2 separate regions of the Homo sapiens genome follow, and region 1 is linked to region 2. The links come from fine-mapping of genetic effects on gene expression. A gene starts in region 2. The other region holds a variant in brackets. All regions are shown on one strand. Distances are from middle to middle.

The links. PIP is the estimated chance that this variant, and not a neighbour inherited with it, causes the effect.
Region 1: its variant is fine-mapped to the expression of PRUNE1 in whole blood (TOPMed, PIP above 0.99).

Annotation. Positions count from the first base shown.
Region 1 is chr1:151,030,877-151,039,205 of GRCh38, forward strand. PRUNE1 (prune exopolyphosphatase 1) reads left to right here. Exons shown (of 8, transcript NM_021222.3): 8 at 2,930-4,837. The coding sequence ends at 3,358. BNIPL (BCL2 interacting protein like) reads left to right here and starts at 5,710. Exons shown (of 10, transcript NM_138278.4): 1 at 5,710-5,890; 2 at 6,691-6,786; 3 at 7,628-7,692; 4 at 7,920-8,150. The coding sequence starts at 5,850. The variant C/A (reference allele first, on the strand shown) is at 3,187.
Region 2 is chr1:151,004,049-151,012,377 of GRCh38, forward strand. It overlaps PRUNE1 (prune exopolyphosphatase 1), which reads left to right and starts at 4,401. Exons shown (of 8, transcript NM_021222.3): 1 at 4,401-4,623. The coding sequence starts at 4,585. MINDY1 (MINDY lysine 48 deubiquitinase 1) reads right to left here and starts at 2,854. Exons shown (of 10, transcript NM_001376665.1): 1 at 2,264-2,854. RefSeq lists enhancers at 2,090-2,349, 2,580-2,759, 4,252-4,794, 4,795-5,335, 4,991-5,040.

The sequences.
Region 1 (8,329 bases), 27 kb after region 2:
TTCTGCATCTGGAAATGGCATAATAGTACCTACTGCTAATTCTGCTATGATCATTAAACGTAATATCATGTGTAAAGCACACTCCTGGAGCAGAGTAAGCACTTTGTAAATAGTGGCTCTTACTAATCCTGTCAGTAAGAAAAGGGTGCTTTGGCCATTAGAAGTACCTCTTCCACGTTCCTGAATCTTCTCCCCTCTGTGCTGCTCTTTTAAAGCTGTGTGGATTTCTAATGACTCTACCATTGTCTAGGTTGCCCCTATGCTTGGAAACAGGAGTCCTTCTCTCTCTGTTTTGTTTTTGTGTGTGTGTGTGTGTGTTTTTTTTTTTTTTTGAGATGTCTCACTCTGTTGACCAGGCTGGAGTGGTACAATGGCACTATCTCAGCTCACTGCAACCTCTGCCTCCCGGGTTCAAGCAATCCTCCCAGCCTCCCAAGTAGCTGCGGCTACAGGCACACCACCATGGCTAGCTAATTTTTTTTGTATTTTTTGTAGGGACAGAGTCTCGCTATGTTGCCCAGGCTGGTCTCGAACTCCTGGACTCAAGTGATCCACCAGCCTCAGCTTCCCAGAGTTCTGGAATTGCAGGTGTGGGCCACTATGCCCAGCCAGGAGTCCTTTTCTTACAGTCTACTCTACCATCTCCTCTCTTTCTCCTATGTTAGGGGTAGTATAATATATTGATTTAGAACACTGGCTTTGGTGACAGCTCTGGGCTCAGTGTCAGTTTTGCTTCATGCAAATTATGACCTTAGGCAAGTTACCTGATCATTGAAGCCTCAGTTTCCCTGCATGTAAGTGAGGGTAATAGTGATACCAGTCTTATTTTGTTCAATTCATTCTTTCTTCCTCCATCCCTCTTCTGGCCTCTAGATAAATTCTAGTTCCATCCTAGTTCAAGTTCTTGAGCACATTTATACACTTGGAAACGACACTAGATTAGAAGCTGGGGTTCCTCGGTTCTGGTTTAACTGCCATCATCTGCATGATTTTACTCACAACCATCTTACTTCGCTTTAGTTACTTTAATAATAAAATGAAATATACAATCTAAACTGTTTCCTCTGTTTTTAAAATACTGTGTATGGCTGGGTATGGTAGCTCATGCCTGTAATCCCAGAACTTTGGGAGGCTGAGCTGGGCAGATCACCTGAGCTCAGGAGTTTGAGACCAGCCTGGCCAATATGGCGAAACCCCGTCTCTACTAAAAATACAAAAATTAGCTGGGCATGATGGCAGGTGCCTGTAATCCCAGCTACTCAGGAGGCTGAAGCAAGAGAATTGCTTGAATCTGGGAGGCGAAGGTTGCAGTGAGCTAAGATCGTGCCACTGTACTCCAGCCTGGGTAACAGAGCAAGAATCCATTTCAAAAAAAAAAAAATTAAAGTAAAATAAAATAAATAAAACACTGTGTATGAATCCCAGCACTTTCGGAGGCTGAAGCAGGAGGATTGCTTGAGACCAGGATTTGGAGACCAGCCTGGGCAACATAGCAAGACCCCATCCCTAGTCTATTAAATAAAAAATACAAAATACTAAAATAAAATACTGTGGGCCAGGCTTGGTGGCTCACACCTGTAATCCTAGCACTTTGGGAGGCCGAGGCGAGAGCGGATGACCTGAGGGCAGGAGTTCGAGACCAGCCTGGCTAACATGGTGTAACCCCGTCTCCACTAAAAATACAAACATTAGCCAGGCTGGGTGACACATGCCTGTAGTCCCAGCTACATGGGAGGCTGAGGCAGGAGATTCACTTGAACCGGGGAGGCAGAGGTTGTACTGAACTGAGATTGCACCACTGCACTCCAGCCTGGGCGACAGAGCAAGACTCTGTCTCAAAAAAAAAAAAAAATACTGTGTATATTAGTGTTCCTTCTGTTGCAAACAATAAAACCGAACTCTGGACAACTTACTTTTTTTCTTGTCTTGCTTTATTGCCCAGGCTGGAGTGCAATGGTGAGATCTCGGCTCACTGCAACCTCCGCCTCCCAGGTTCAAATGATTCTCCTATCTCAGCCTCCCAAGTAGCTGGGATTACAGGTGTGAACCACCATGTCTGGCTAATTTTTGTATTTTTCGTAGAGATGGGGTTTCAGCATGTTGACAAGGCTGTTCTCGAATTCCTGACCTCAGGTGATCCGCCCACCTTGGCCTCCCAAAGTGCTGGGATTACAGGCGTGAGCCACTGTGCCCGGCCTCAAGGATAACTTACTTTTTTTTTTTTTTGAGACGGAGTTTCGCTCTTGTTGCCCAGGCTGGAGTGCAGTGGCACCATCTTGGCTCACTGCAACTTCTGTCTCCTGGGTTCAAGTGATTCTCCTGCCTCAGCCTCCCAAGTAGCTGGGATTACAGGCATGCGCCATCATGCCTGGCTAATTTTGTATTTTTAGTAGAGATGGGGTTTCTCCATGATGGTCAGGCTGGTCTCAAACTCCCGACCTCAGGTGATCGGCCCCCTTTAGCCTCCCAAAGTGCTGGGATTACAGGCGTGAGCCACCGCGCCCGGCTGACTTACTTTTTTTTTTTTTTTTTGAGATGCAGTGTTGCTCTGTCGCCCAGGCTGGAGTGCAGTGGCGCGATCTCCGCTCACTGCAAGCTCCGCCTCCTGGGTTCACGCCATTCTCCTGCCTCAGCCTCCCGAGTAGCTGGGACTACAGGCACCCGCCACCATGCCCGGCTAATTTTTTGTATTTTTAGTAGAGACGGGGTTTCACTGTGTTAGCCAGGATGGTCTCAATCTCCTGACCTCATGATCCACCCGCCTCGGCCTCCCAAAGTGCTGGGATTGCAAGCGTGAGCCACCGCACCCCGCCCGGCCGACTTACTTTTTAAAAGCTTCCTCTTCTATAGAGGAAGCCTCTCACTTAGAAGCCCAGCACTTTGCTACAGCAAGTTGTGTATCATTTCCCTGTTATTGTCTCCTCTTTAGATCTGTGAAGTCCTGGAACGCTCCCACTCTCCACCCCTGAAGCTGACCCCTGCCTCAAGTACCCACCCTAACCTCCATGCCTATCTTCAAGGCAACACCCAGGTCTCTCGAAAGAAACTTCTGCCCCTGCTCCAGGAAGCCCTGTCAGCATATTTTGACTCCATGAAGATCCCTTCAGGACAGCCTGAGACAGCAGATGTGTCCAGGGAGCAAGTGGACAAGGAATTGGACAGGGCAAGTAACTCCCTGATTTCTGG[C/A]CTGAGTCAAGATGAGGAGGACCCTCCGCTGCCCCCGACGCCCATGAACAGCTTGGTGGATGAGTGCCCTCTAGATCAGGGGCTGCCTAAACTCTCTGCTGAGGCCGTCTTCGAGAAGTGCAGTCAGATCTCACTGTCACAGTCTACCACAGCCTCCCTGTCCAAGAAGTGACTGTTGAGAGGCGAGGAGGTAGTGGGTGAGGCTACCTGACTCACTTCAAATGCATGTTTTGAGATGTTTGGAGATTCAGCAATTCTGTCTTCATTGCTCCAGGATCTGGTATACTGTTCTCATAAAACTGAGAGGAGAAAAAAAGTGAAAGAAAGCAGCTGCTTTAAGAATGGTTTTCCACCTTTTCCCCCTAATCTCTACCAATCAGACACATTTTATTATTTAAATCTGCACCTCTCTCTATTTTATTTGCCAGGGGCACGATGTGACATATCTGCAGTCCCAGCACAGTGGGACAAAAAGAATTTAGACCCCAAAAGTGTCCTCGGCATGGATCTTGAACAGAACCAGTATCTGTCATGGAACTGAACATTCATCGATGGTCTCCATGTATTCATTTATTCACTTGTTCATTCAAGTATTTATTGAATACCTGCCTCAAGCTAGAGAGAAAAGAGAGTGCGCTTTGGAAATTTATTCCAGTTTTCAGCCTACAGCAGATTATCAGCTCGGTGACTTTTCTTTCTGCCACCATTTAGGTGATGGTGTTTGATTCAGAGATGGCTGAATTTCTATTCTTAGCTTATTGTGACTGTTTCAGATCTAGTTTGGGAACAGATTAGAGGCCATTGTCTTCTGTCCTGATCAGGTGGCCTGGCTGTTTCTTTGGATCCCTCTGTCCCAGAGCCACCCAGAACCCTGACTCTTGAGAATCAAGAAAACACCCAGAAAGGCCTTAATGACCTCATAGGCACTCTTCCAAAAAGACAACAGAACTGGAATGAGAGGCCTGGGTCTGTCTCCTGCCTTAGCAGGCCTATCAATTTCTTGTCAATCTCTTTTTTTCCTTGCTCACATTAAAAGGAAGCATGGAGTTCTAATGCTCCCATAAACTATGTATTTTGGCAAGACACTTCACTACTCCAGGTCTCACTTTCCCCATCTGTAAAACAGGGTTTGGACTAGGTGTTCCCTGGTATTCTGTGATCTGCCTCTTGCTGCCATTCTTTCTCTCCTCTGCTTCTCTGTATTTTTCTTCTGTTATCCCTGGGGGTGCTCAGGTTCACTTGATTGTCTGTATTTCTGTGTGGTTGTAGCAAGGACTCAGCCTCATGTAGCACGAATAGGGGTGTGGTTCATGGCGTGTTGACCCAGCAGAGCACTCCCTCCCACTAACTTGTTCTGCATGTGTAGAGTCTCCCCATTTTTTTTAACGCAACCCTTTCCCCTTTTTCCTACCCCACAGCTCTGTTCCATGTAAGTTGCCAACAGTTTCACTGAACAGTGGGGTATGTGATGGTTTTGGCATGACATCTTCAGTATGAGGGGGACAGTTTGACTTCACTTTGAGGGTGTGATGTCTGTAGCTATGTGGAAGGTAAAAATAGTGGTGTGATCATGAACCAAAGGAATTTATGTTTTGTAACTTGGGTACTTTATTTTGCATTTTGTTATACTATTAAATAATTTTTTCCTGTTTGGGGGTCTTACTGTCTTTTTTTACAAGTGTATTCAGGCCTTTCTCTGTGATAGTTGTTTCAGTCTCCTCAAAATTGATCCCCCTTCTTCCTACTATACTTAATGTCTTCTTTCTGTTGACTCTTTTTGGGAATAAGGAGCAACAGGCTTCTGTCTCCCCTCATCCTCAGCCTCCCGTTCAACTTGTTTATTCTCCCAGAAACCTCCTTATAACATACTTCCGTTTCCCCAGTTTTCCTTATGCTTGAAAAGTAGATCCAAGATAACAGTCCTAGAAACACACACAATGGTTTCTTTTTCTTTTTTTTTTTTTTTTTGAGATGGAGTTTTGCTCTTTTTGCCCTGGCTGGAGTGCAATGGCACAATCTCAGCCCACTACAACCTCTGCCTCCCAGGTTCAAGCGATTCTCCTGCCTCAGCCTCCCAAGTAGCTGGGATTATAGGCATGTGTCACCACGCCCAGATAATTTTTTTTTTTTTTTTTTTTTTTTTTTTTTTTTGGATTTTTAGTAGAGATGGGGTTTCTCCACATTGGTCAGGCTGGTCTCAAACTCCCGACCTCAGGTGATCCGCCTGCCTTGGCCTCCCAAAGTGTTGGGATTACAGGTGTGAGCCACCACGCCCGGCCAGAAACACAACGGTTTCTACTGGTTTTTTTGCTTATTTGTGTAAAGAGCAACTTTGAGAGGGATATATGGAGTCTGGAAAGGAGAACAAATTGCCTTCCTAGACTCAACCGAGACTGGCCCCCACTAGAAAATGCACTCTCCTCCCCAAAACCCGCCCCCTCACAGGAGGCAGGGTTTTTCTTTTGGGCAAACCTGCTCCTGGGGAGAGGAGTGGCAAAACCTGTTTTGAAGATGAGGTTACCTCCCTTCCACACCTCCCTCCTTGGAGGCAAGAGCTACAACAGCTGAGACAGAAAAGAGGTAAGGAAGTGTTGGGGGCTGGGACAACCAGCTCCCCAACAACTCCTAGGTGTTTAAAGAAGGAGGCAGGAAGACTTGTGAAGATGGGAACTATACAAGAGGCAGGAAAAAAGACAGATGTTGGGTAAGTAAGATCTTGGCTCACTTGATTGGTAACAGTGAATAAACAGTCCGGAGAGACTTCCCCACCACCCAGCTCTTACTGGGTCAAATCTCGGGTTCCTCAAGGAGACAAGACTGTAAGAGAGTTTGCAGAGAAGAGATGAGGGTGGTTTTAGGTAGGAAATGTCAGTATGGTATGGAACTGGGGAACAGGATTCCAGGATAATTCCCTGGTTTAAAAATAAAGGAAGTTTCTGTAATATGTTGTACCTGATAAATCTGCCTGTGTTCTTTTATTTTCTAACCCTCACCCTCCAGAATGGCCATCAGGAAAGCTGAACCAGAACCGAGTTTAGGTCCAGGTTCTCGTTCTGGCAAATCTTTCTCCTTACCTTCTTCCTCCACCCCTCCACTTATGCCATGTTTTCCCTTAGCCACTCCCCAGCTCGGTGGAGGAAAGGCAGGCCTAACTAGGTACCGTCTTCCCGACTTTGCTCAATGATAGCTGGGTGGGTCTAGCTGGGTTCCAGCCACTTGTAATGTGGGACATCTCTCACCCCAACTTTGTAGGTGGAGCAACTGCTACAGAGGTAAATATGATTAACTTTACATTCCATCTTTCGTCTGCTCCCAAACTTAACAGCAGGTAATCTGCTTCTAGCAAGTGGTGAAGGTAAGAGAAGCATCTGTATAGGAGGCAAGAGATCTGAGTCCTTTTGAAGGCCTATCCTCTGCTCTGTATCTCAATTACTGTTCTTCATTTCAATTATTCTTACCTACTATTCAGTTCCCTTGATCTTTTCTTCTTGGGGGCTGTCTTAGGGTCAGGGAGATTGCAGAAGCACCAGAACTAGGAGCAGCCCTGAGACATGGGGAGTTGGAGCTGAAGGAGGAATGGCAGGATGAAGAATTCCCTAGGTGAGGACGTGTGAGGGTGGCTGGGAGAAGGGAGGGGTGGTCACGAATGGACGGAGGGGATGGCGCGGCGGCTCATGGCTGTAATCCCAGCACTTTGGGTGGCCGAGGCGGGTGGATCACCTGAGGTCAGGAGTTTGAGACCAGCCTGACCAACACGGTGAAATCCCGTCTCTACTAAAAATACAAAATTAGCCAGGTGTGGTGGCACATGCCTGTAATCCCAGCTACTCGGGAGGCTGAGGCAGGAGAATCACTTGAACCTGGGAGGCAGAGGTTGTAGTGAGCTGAGATTGTGCCATTACACCCGAGCTTGGGCAACAAGAGTGAAACTCTGTCTCAAAAAAAAAAAAAAAAAAAAAAAAAAAAAGCAAATGGACACAGGGATGGTGAATTAGGACTTGAAGGAAAAAAATGGGAAAAAGAAAACAGAGGCCGGGCGTGGTGGCTGATGCCTGTAATCCCAGCACTTTGGGAGGCCGAGGCAGGTGGATCACTTGAGCTCAGAAGTTCAAGACTACTCTGGGCAACATGGCATAACCCCATCTCTACAAAAATACAAAATTTAGCCAAGTGTGGTGGTGCACACCTGTAGGCCCAGCTACTCGGGAGGCTGAGGTGGGAGGACCGCTTGAACCCTGGAGGTAGAGGCTGCAGTGAGCTGTGATTGTGCCACTGCATTCCAGCCTGGGCAACAGAGTGAGACCCTGTCTCAAAAAAACAATTAAAAAAAAAAGCAGCATAGGTGATAAAATCATGGTGGGGAGAGAGAACCTATATATTGAGTCCTGGCTTGATGCCTTTGGTGTATATGTCTGCCGCCTTTTAATCTCTTCCCCTCTAGATTGCTTCCTGAGGAGGCTGGCACTTCTGAAGATCCTGAAGACCCTAAAGGAGATTCACAGGCAGGTAGGTCAAGTAGAAACCAGGCCTCAAGTTCTTGATTCTAGTCCAGTAAAGGGCTATGCCACCTCTATCCTTTTACAGTTCCATTTCCCCCTTTTCCCAAATCTCCCCTGCGTGAGTCCTTCTTCAGCATTCACCCCATATTATCACTTTCACATACAGGAATTCTAGCCCTCTCGGCTCTCCAACACACACACCCATCTTGGTTCTCTTTTTCCCCCTTTCTCCAGCTGCAGGTACCCCCAGCACTTTAGCCCTGTGTGGCCAGCGCCCCATGCGCAAGCGTCTTTCTGCCCCAGAGTTGCGGCTGAGTCTGACTAAGGGGCCTGGAAATGATGGAGCTTCACCCACCCAGTCTGCACCTTCCTCTCCTGATGGCAGTTCTGACCTGGAGATAGACGAATTGGAGACACCTTCAGACTCGGAGCAGCTGGACAGTGGACATGAATTTGAATGGGAAGGTGGGAAACAAACCAGAGGACTCAGCTGGTAGAAGTAGAGGCTAGAGCTAAAGGATCAGGATGGACTTAATGGGACTGCAGTTAGAACTAATAAGGTGGGACCAAGGGCTACGGCCAGCAAAATTAGTTTCCTCAAATGGAACTTGGGCTTATAGGTCCAATGTGAGAGTAGTCAGTAG
Region 2 (8,329 bases):
AGTAGCTGGGATTACAGGCATGCAACACCATGCCCAGCTAATTTTGTATTTTTTAGTAGAGATGGAGTTTCTCCATGTTGGTCAGGCTGGTCTTGAACTTCCGACCTCAGGTGATCCTCCCACCTTGGCCTCCCAAAGTGCTGGGATTACAGGCATGAGCCACCGTGCCCAGTCCTCTCCAGGTCATTTTAGATGTGAACACCGGACCTGTTTAACCTGTTCTCTATCAGCACTGGAGGCACATTGAGGCAAGCACAGATAGACATTTAACTAATACTGTGGGTATAAATAATAAAAAACCACAAATCCTGCCCTTTGGAAAACATCTCCCTTCAATCTCCTTGCTCCCCTCCCACTCTTTATCAGGGAGAGAAACAGGGAGAAATTAAACTAGTTAGGGGCCAGGCGCGGTGGCTCACGCCTGTAATCCCAGCACTTTGAGAGGCTGAGGCGGGCAGATTACTTGAGGTCAGGAGATCGAGACCATCCTGGCTAACATGGCAAAACGCTGTCTGTATTGAAAGTACAAAAATTAGCCAGGTGTGTTGGCACGTGCCTGTAGTCACAGCTGCTCGGGAGGCTGAGGTGGGAGAATTGCTTGAACCTGGGAGGCAGGGGGTTGCAGTGAGCTGAGATGGTGACACTGCACTACAGCCTGGGTGACAGAGCGAAACTCCATCTCAAAAATAAAATAAAATAAAATAAAATAAAATAAAATAAAATAAAATAAAATAAAATAAATTAAACTAGTTAGAAATCTTGTCTTTTCTCCACCCTCCTCCCAGCCTGAGACTGCTTCCTTCTTGTAAACCTACAGGAATTTGGGGCTAGGGGAAGGCCTGGGAGATGAGGTTGAGGAACATTAAAGTTACTGAAACAAAATAAGCCTAGTCACTCAAATTGATTATCCTCTTGATTCACATATGTTTATGCTAGCTGCATATCATTTACGTGTTGTTAATTTAGAATCAGAGTAGCAAAAATTGCCTGCAGGCCTTATGCTTTTTTTTCTCTCTCTTTCTCTCTCTCCTTTCCTTCTCCCCTTAAATGACACTTAGGGTGAACCTCAAAGCAGATGCCAGAGCCTGGAAAAGTGAAAAAGCTTGAAGAAAAGCAGGCCTTGGCCGGGCACAGTGCCTCACACCTGTATCCCAGCACTTTGAGAGGCCGAGGCGGGCGGATCACCTGAGGTCAGGAGCTCAAGATCGGCCTGGCTAACATGGCGAAACCCCATCTCTACTAAAAATACAAAAATTAGCCGGGCACGGTGGCGGGCACCTGTAATCCCAGCTACTCAGGAGGCTGAGGCAGGAGAATTGCTTGAACCCCGGAGGTGGAGGTTGCAGTAAGCCAAGATTGTGCCTCTGCACTCCAGCCTGGGTGACAAGAGTGAGACTCTTGCCTCCAAAAAAAAAAAGAAAAAAAGAAAAAAAAAAAAGAAAAGCAGGCCTTATTTTTTATATTTTCTCTCCAGTGCCAGAAATGATCAATGATGAAGTGGGGGTTGGGCAGCTAGCTGGCTGGAGAGGTGAGCCAAAGGAACCCAGGAGTGGACACCTGAGGGAGTGGGGTCTCAGAGGAACTGGGCAGAGCTAAATGGGCTAAGTCTTAAGAGGCAGGGGCAGGAAATGTAATGGAGGCTTTCTACTCTACAACGTCCAATCCTGCTGGGGAGGGCATGGAGTATTTCAGAGTAGGAAAGAATGAGGGAGAGGATAGTCAGATAAATCAAAGTTTCATTCTTTTCCTCCTCTTTCTTAGCTCGTCAAATCCTACACTTTCTCTCCAGCTGGAATTATGGTGGTGAGTGAGGGAGTTAAAATAATCCTGGCTCCTCCCTAATCAATGGCAGTAGAGAGCCGAAAGTTGGAAGAAGCACGTAAAACAGGTATGTAGCTTCAAGAAGACACTCCTTCTCTGTAGGAACAGTTCCCTTACTGTCTCACACCAATCTCCTTCTTAGTCTGACCTATGTCTTTGTGCAATCAATAGTTTAGATTTTCATCTCAGAATATGTCAACCATGGCCACAGTGCCCTGTATACTTGCTCACAAGGAGAGGGGGAAGGTTTCGTGCTTTCATTAAAAGGAGGAGGACCAAGCAGCATCCCCTTTACATGTCTCTCCTGACTTAGCTCCTCTAAGCAATCCAGACTTGCAGACCAAAGGTGGAAGGACAGCAGGTGTCAGCTCCCCAAAGCTGGAGAGGAAATAGAGAAGGGTGGGAGAAGAGGTGAAGAAGATGATTAAAATAAAGTTTTTACCTTAAAGAAGGGGGTGCTGTTCCAAGATTGAGAAGGAGGGTTCAGCCGTGGCAATGAGATGGGGGAGATAGGTGCAATGAAGGGGGCTGCCAGTGCCAGCTGCCTTCCAGCTGTCAACGCCTGAGCTTATACAGGTTTACACAGCTTTATAAGCGACGGTCCAGGCTGGGTTGTGGCCACTTCCGGACTCACGCCCAGTACTGGGGGCACTGGAGGAGGGTGAAGGCAGGCAGGGACACAGCCAAGGTGCTCCAGGTCGCTCAGAGAGTCTTCAGGATTCCTGAGTCGCCGAGTCTATGGCATGCGCTCCGGGCCCTGACTACAAGCTGGTTTTCAAAGGAAGTTTGTGGTTTTTCTTTTCTTCTCTCTCTCTTTTTTGTTCTCATCAGGACGAAGAAAAATTAGGCAAGGACAAGCTCCCTGGAGGAGGAGGGGCCTGCCCAGCGCTGGTGGATTTCCATCAGGACTTTCTGACCCGGTCAGCAGCTTTGTGATCAGCAGAGAGGGAGCGAGAAACAGGAGAGAAAAACAACAGACCCTTTCTCTTCCCTCTGCCTGCCTCTAGAAGGGACGGAGCGCTTGTGCCTCTCTGGTGAGAATAGGGAAGAGCAAGTGCCCTTGCTAAGTAGGGAGGAGAAGGGCTGGACAGAAGCAGCTTGTTGGATCTGGGCTCTCTCTCTGGGTATGGCAGTCCTTTGCTCTGGATCCACAGAAGCAGGAGCAAAGAGCACGATATTTGCATGTATTACTCAATTAATGTTAAAAACAAACAAACAAACCCAGCTCTTTTCCCTCTGGAGCCCTCCAGAGAGCTCCTTTCCAAGTCCTTGCTGTATCATTTTTAAGTCTAGAAATGAAACTGGTTGGGTTGTGCACCTGGTAGAGTGCAGAGGGTGTGGTAGAAGCCCCAGGCTCTGGGCGCGATGGCTGACGCCTGTAATCCCAGCACTTTGGGAAGCCAAGGCGGGCGGATCACAAGGTCAAGAGATCAAGACCAACCTGGCCAACATAGTGAAACCCCATCTCTACTAAAAATACAAAAATTAGCAGGGCATGGTGGCACATGCCTGTAGTCCCAGCTACTCGGGAGGCTGAGGCAGGAGAATCGCTTGAACCCGGGAGGTGGAGGTTGCAGTGAGCCAAGATCCTGCCACTGCACTCCAGCCTGAAGACGGAGCAAGACTCCGTCTCAAAAAGAAGAAGAAGAAGAAAAGAACTGGCAGAGCAGGCAGGAGATCCAACACGCCTGTGCTCTGGATCTTGGTTCCACTGCAGGCCTCTCATCAGTCACCTCCTCTCGATTTACAGCTGGGGAAGCAGGAAAAGCTGGTGTGAGGCTGACGGTAGGAAATAAAGGGATAGATAAATAAATGAGGGAATTTTTGATGATGAGTGTCCATTTATTTGCAGTACCTGCACTACTCTGCGGCTGGAAAGTGGCAGTTAAGGGAGGTTGGAACCTAACTCCACATTCTGAAGGGTTCCCTAAACTCTATGTACAGGGCCGCCACAGGATGAAATTTCAAGCAACTCTAAAGGCTGAAAGAGCAATTGGAACAATTAGGGTGGCAGAGAGCAAAAAGCCAAGGTTACAACCGTCCAAGAAAGGAAGAAGATATTTGCCGAGGCTGTAGAAAAAAACAGGCTACAGAGTTGCAAAGGGAGAAGCAGCAGGAGTTGGCAGGAGACTGTAGGTGTTAACAAGAGGGGTCAAAGATTATTCTAATGTTCTCCTAACATGAACAACCACAAAATTGGTGGCGACTGAGTCAGTTTGGTAAAGGGCAGAATTTGTAGAAAGAAGATGATCTGTTTTGCCAAGTGTCATTTAAAATGTCACCAGATGCTCGGTGTGATATATGTAAAGATGTTATACTTGGCCTGATCTGAGAGGGAAAGTTCAGATGCCACAATAATGGGTTACTGTGACACATACACATTTGTTTACCGAACGACTGATCCCTCAGAAAACAATCCTTCCCTCGGTTGCTAGGGACATTGCGGAGTTGCGGGACTACGTTTCCCACGTCGCCCCACGCCACGCCCCCTTGGCCTCGCCGGAAAGACGTCCCAGGAGCCTCTGGGCGTAGAGCCCCGCCTCCGCCGCTGGGGGCGGGGCGACGCCGGACTCCGGAGCGCCCGCTTACGCAGTTCCTCCCGGGGTCGGAGGCCGATTCGCCGTGTGGCGGGTTCGAGTCCCGCCTCCTGACTCTGGCCTCTAGTCCCTGAGTCCCGGGCGGGCTGCATTCGTCGGGGAAACCTCTCCTCGACCAGGGGCACCTCTACTCGACCAGGGGCGACGGCGTACTTTGGGCTTCATCATGGAGGACTACCTGCAGGGTTGTCGAGCTGCTCTGCAGGTAACGAATCCCTGTCTGTGACTGTAAGGAATGGAGCACGGGGTCCAGGAAGGACGAAGACGTGGGATCTGGGGGAGCCTCGACGGTCCGTGTGGAGGGAACACTGAGTTGTGGGGAGGGGGGTTGGGGCCTGATCAGTTTTGGGGCATGAGGAGCGAGGAGCGAGAAGCCAGTTTAGGAGCGTGAGAATGCTGCTTGTTCAGTCTCCCGGTTTTTGGCTCCCCGCCTTTGGGGTCCGCCTGAGAGCGGGGAGAAGTCTTGGGTCTGAATCCTGCATTTGAGCCTCTGCTTGCTGTCATCTTGGTCAGTTCCATCAAAAAAACCAGGACTGTGCCGCCGCCAGCCTAGCCCCGCGAGGTGTGTTTATTCTTTTCTCCCCGCCCCTCTTTGAGTTCTCCGCTCCCAAGGCTTCGCTTGGCCCACTGGCCTCCAGGTGAACCTCGGGGGTGTGGAGGGAACCGGTGCTCACGGCCTTATTTCCTCCGAATGGCAGTTTCTGTCTGGCGGGCTGAACTCATTTCTAGGTTAGAAGTAGTCACAGTATTTTACTTTAAGTCAGTGTTTTTAAGCCAAACATACAAAATCCATCAGGCATATTTGTTGACCCACAACCAGCATTCCTTTGCCTCCAGGTTTCTCCTTTGGCCTTAACGCACACAAATGACATAAAAATTCTCCACTTGGAAGGGATAAGCACAAAGTGTGTTTGGAATCAAAACCATAAATATGACTACTCAATGCTTTGTGGCTTATTTTTGGTGCTCTCTGACTCAGTTGGACTCACCCAGCCATGCTGAGCCGTCATGAGGCATTAGGCTGTTATCCCCAGTTAGCAGCAAAAAGCTAACCAGAGACAGGCTCCAGGAGGTCACCCGGCCCCTCTACTTTGAGTTATACTGCCCTGAAGAAACCTAGATAGATGGCTTGCTGAGCTTTCCTTTTTAGATATCTTAAACTCTACAAATTCCCCTGAGGGACAGATTCTGGTCTTTAACAAATCCTGAAAGTCACTAATTCCTGCTGCAGACTCAGCTGCTGGAATAAATGAATTGTCTTCATATTGAATTGGGGAGAAGGTCCATTTTAACACCAATTACATAGACATTTTCCTTGTGAAAAACAAATTTGGGGAGTTATTTCAATGCATAAGGCCATTTGGAACCAATCCCTTTTTGTTACCTCTGAGTCCACCACAGGGCGCTTATTGGAGGACTAATGTAGAGTTTTTGGGGCACCGTTCTAAGTGCTAAACAGTTGGATTTTACCCCCCAGTAACCCAAATGACTGGTCTCTTCCACCATTTGGTAAAGTGCCCTTGGACCTGAAACCTCACCAAATAGTATTTCTTTGCATGCATCTACTCTCCAGCATATATCCTCCAGAGCCTCCCCCGACCCCCAGGTTAGTAGTATATTCTCTATTTTTATTTTGTATTTGTTTATTTATTTTCAGCCAGGGTCTCACTCTGTTGCCCTGGCTGGAGTGCAATGGTGTGATCACCTCCCCGGCTCAAGTGATCCTCCCACCTCAGCCTCCCGAAAAAGCTGCGACTATAGGCAGTGCCACCACGCAGGGCTAATTTTTTGTATTTTTATAGAGACAGGGTCTCGCCATGCTGCCCAATCTGGTTTCAAACTCCTGGACTCAAACAATCCCCCTGGCTTGGCTTCCCAAGGTGTTGGAATTACAGGTGTTAGCCACTGTACCCAGCCCGAATAGTATATTCTCTACAGCAATATGAAGCTGGAAAAATACTTGATTTTTCCAATACTGCTGGCATCTCGACCTTTCTCTCCCTGCATTCATCCCCCAAGGAGCAAGATCTAGATCTTCCTTTCAAACTTGTGAACTTGTGAAAGGTGAGATTGTGTCTTAGAGCTTGCATCATCACATAGCCTCTCCAGGGCCTGGAGAAATGAGAAAATTAGACTCTAGGAAGGTTAACAGGGGAACTGATGGCAAGACATACTGGTAGATGCCAACAATTTAAATTGCTTTAATTTTTTTTTTTTTTTTTTTGAGATAGACTCACTCTGTCGCCCAGGCTGGAGTAGGCTCACTGCAACCTCCACTTCCCGAATTCAAGCGATTCTTCTGCCTCAGCCTCCTGAGTAGCTGGGATTACAAGTGTGCGCCACTATGCCTGGCTAAGTTTTGTATTTTTAGTAGAGACAGGGTGTCACCATGTTGGACAGGCTGGTCTTGAACTCCTGACCTCAAGTGATATGCCTGCCTTGGTCTCCCAAAGTGCTGGGATTATAGGCATGAGCCACCACACCCAGCCTAGATTGCTTTAAATTATAGAAGTAGTAAATGTGTATTTCATGAACAAATTTAAATACCAAAGGGATATGAAATGAAAAAGATAAAGATCATTTTTCTTTTCTCCTCTCCATCCAGTTCTCCAGAGGACACCGTTAAGTTTCTTGTGTAAAGAGAGAGAGGTGATTTAGACAGATACACTCTTAAGTTTGAATGTTTCTGTTAAACTACAGTTTAATTATAACTTTCAGAAAATCATGAATGCTCCTCTTTGTGCAGGATAAAGACAGCTGGTAATCCAGCCAAGTCTCCCGTTGCTACCATATTTTTAGTATTTGATACCACAGAAATTTTCTATAGCCTCTGCCACAGAGACAATAGGATGTTCCATTAAAAAAAAATCATTTAACCAAATGTCCTATTTATGGTGACTCATCTTTCACTTCTGAGGGGAGAAATCTTTGCTTCAGGGTGGGGCTGCATTGCAGTTTAGGTGTTCATCCAGGACCCCTTGGATAATGTAGTGTGTGCAGTTCTCAGGCATGAGGCAGGAATCAGGAGCTGGCTCTCCTTAGAAATTTGCAGTCCTGGCATCAGTATTGTTCCTGTTTTCTCTGCTGAGAGGGTTTGTCTCTCTCTGGCTTTCTGTCTCGTTTATTTTTCTCCCCCATTAACTATTCTGAAGAGTAGTTATCATACCATATTCAGCTTTAGAAGGGAAGTGGTTTACTTTGCCAGGCCTAGAATCCCCTCCCTGCCCCCTCCTCTTGAGGCCACAAAGAACATATCAGGATAAGAGAGTCATTTCAACTAGTGGGTGTTTATTCATTTATTTATTTTAATTAATTAATTTTTTTTTTTTTTGAGACAAAGTCTCGCTCTGTCACCAGGCTGGAGTACAGTTGCATGATCTCGGCTCACTGCAACCTCCGCCTGCCAGGTTCAAGTGATTTTCCTGCCTCAGCCTCCCGAGTAGCTGGGACTACAGGCATGTGCCACCATGCCCAGCTAATTTTTGTATTTTTAGTAGAAACGGGGTTTCACCATGTTGGCCAGGATGGTCTCAATCTCTTGACCTCGTGGTCGGCCCACCTCGGCCTCCCAAAGTGCTGGGATTACAGGCGTGAGCCACCGTGCCTGGCCAACTAGTGGGTCTTTAAAAAAAAGAAAAAAGAAAAAAAGTTTGTATTTATTTACTTGTGGCCCTCAGATTGTATTTTTTCCATTGGCAGCTTAGATTTCCTCATGCTGCTAAGTATAGCTGTATTTTCCCTGAACTCTTTCTCTGATGGTCAGAAAACTGAGGCTGTTTGGCTTGTGCTTTCAGCTGGTGGAGGATGGGCTTGGAATTAGGGGTTACACATGTTTTTCTTAAATAAAGAAGAGAATGATGTCTTATAAGTTGGGCAGCCCCACACACGGTTTGCCCAGGGCAGTCTTGGTT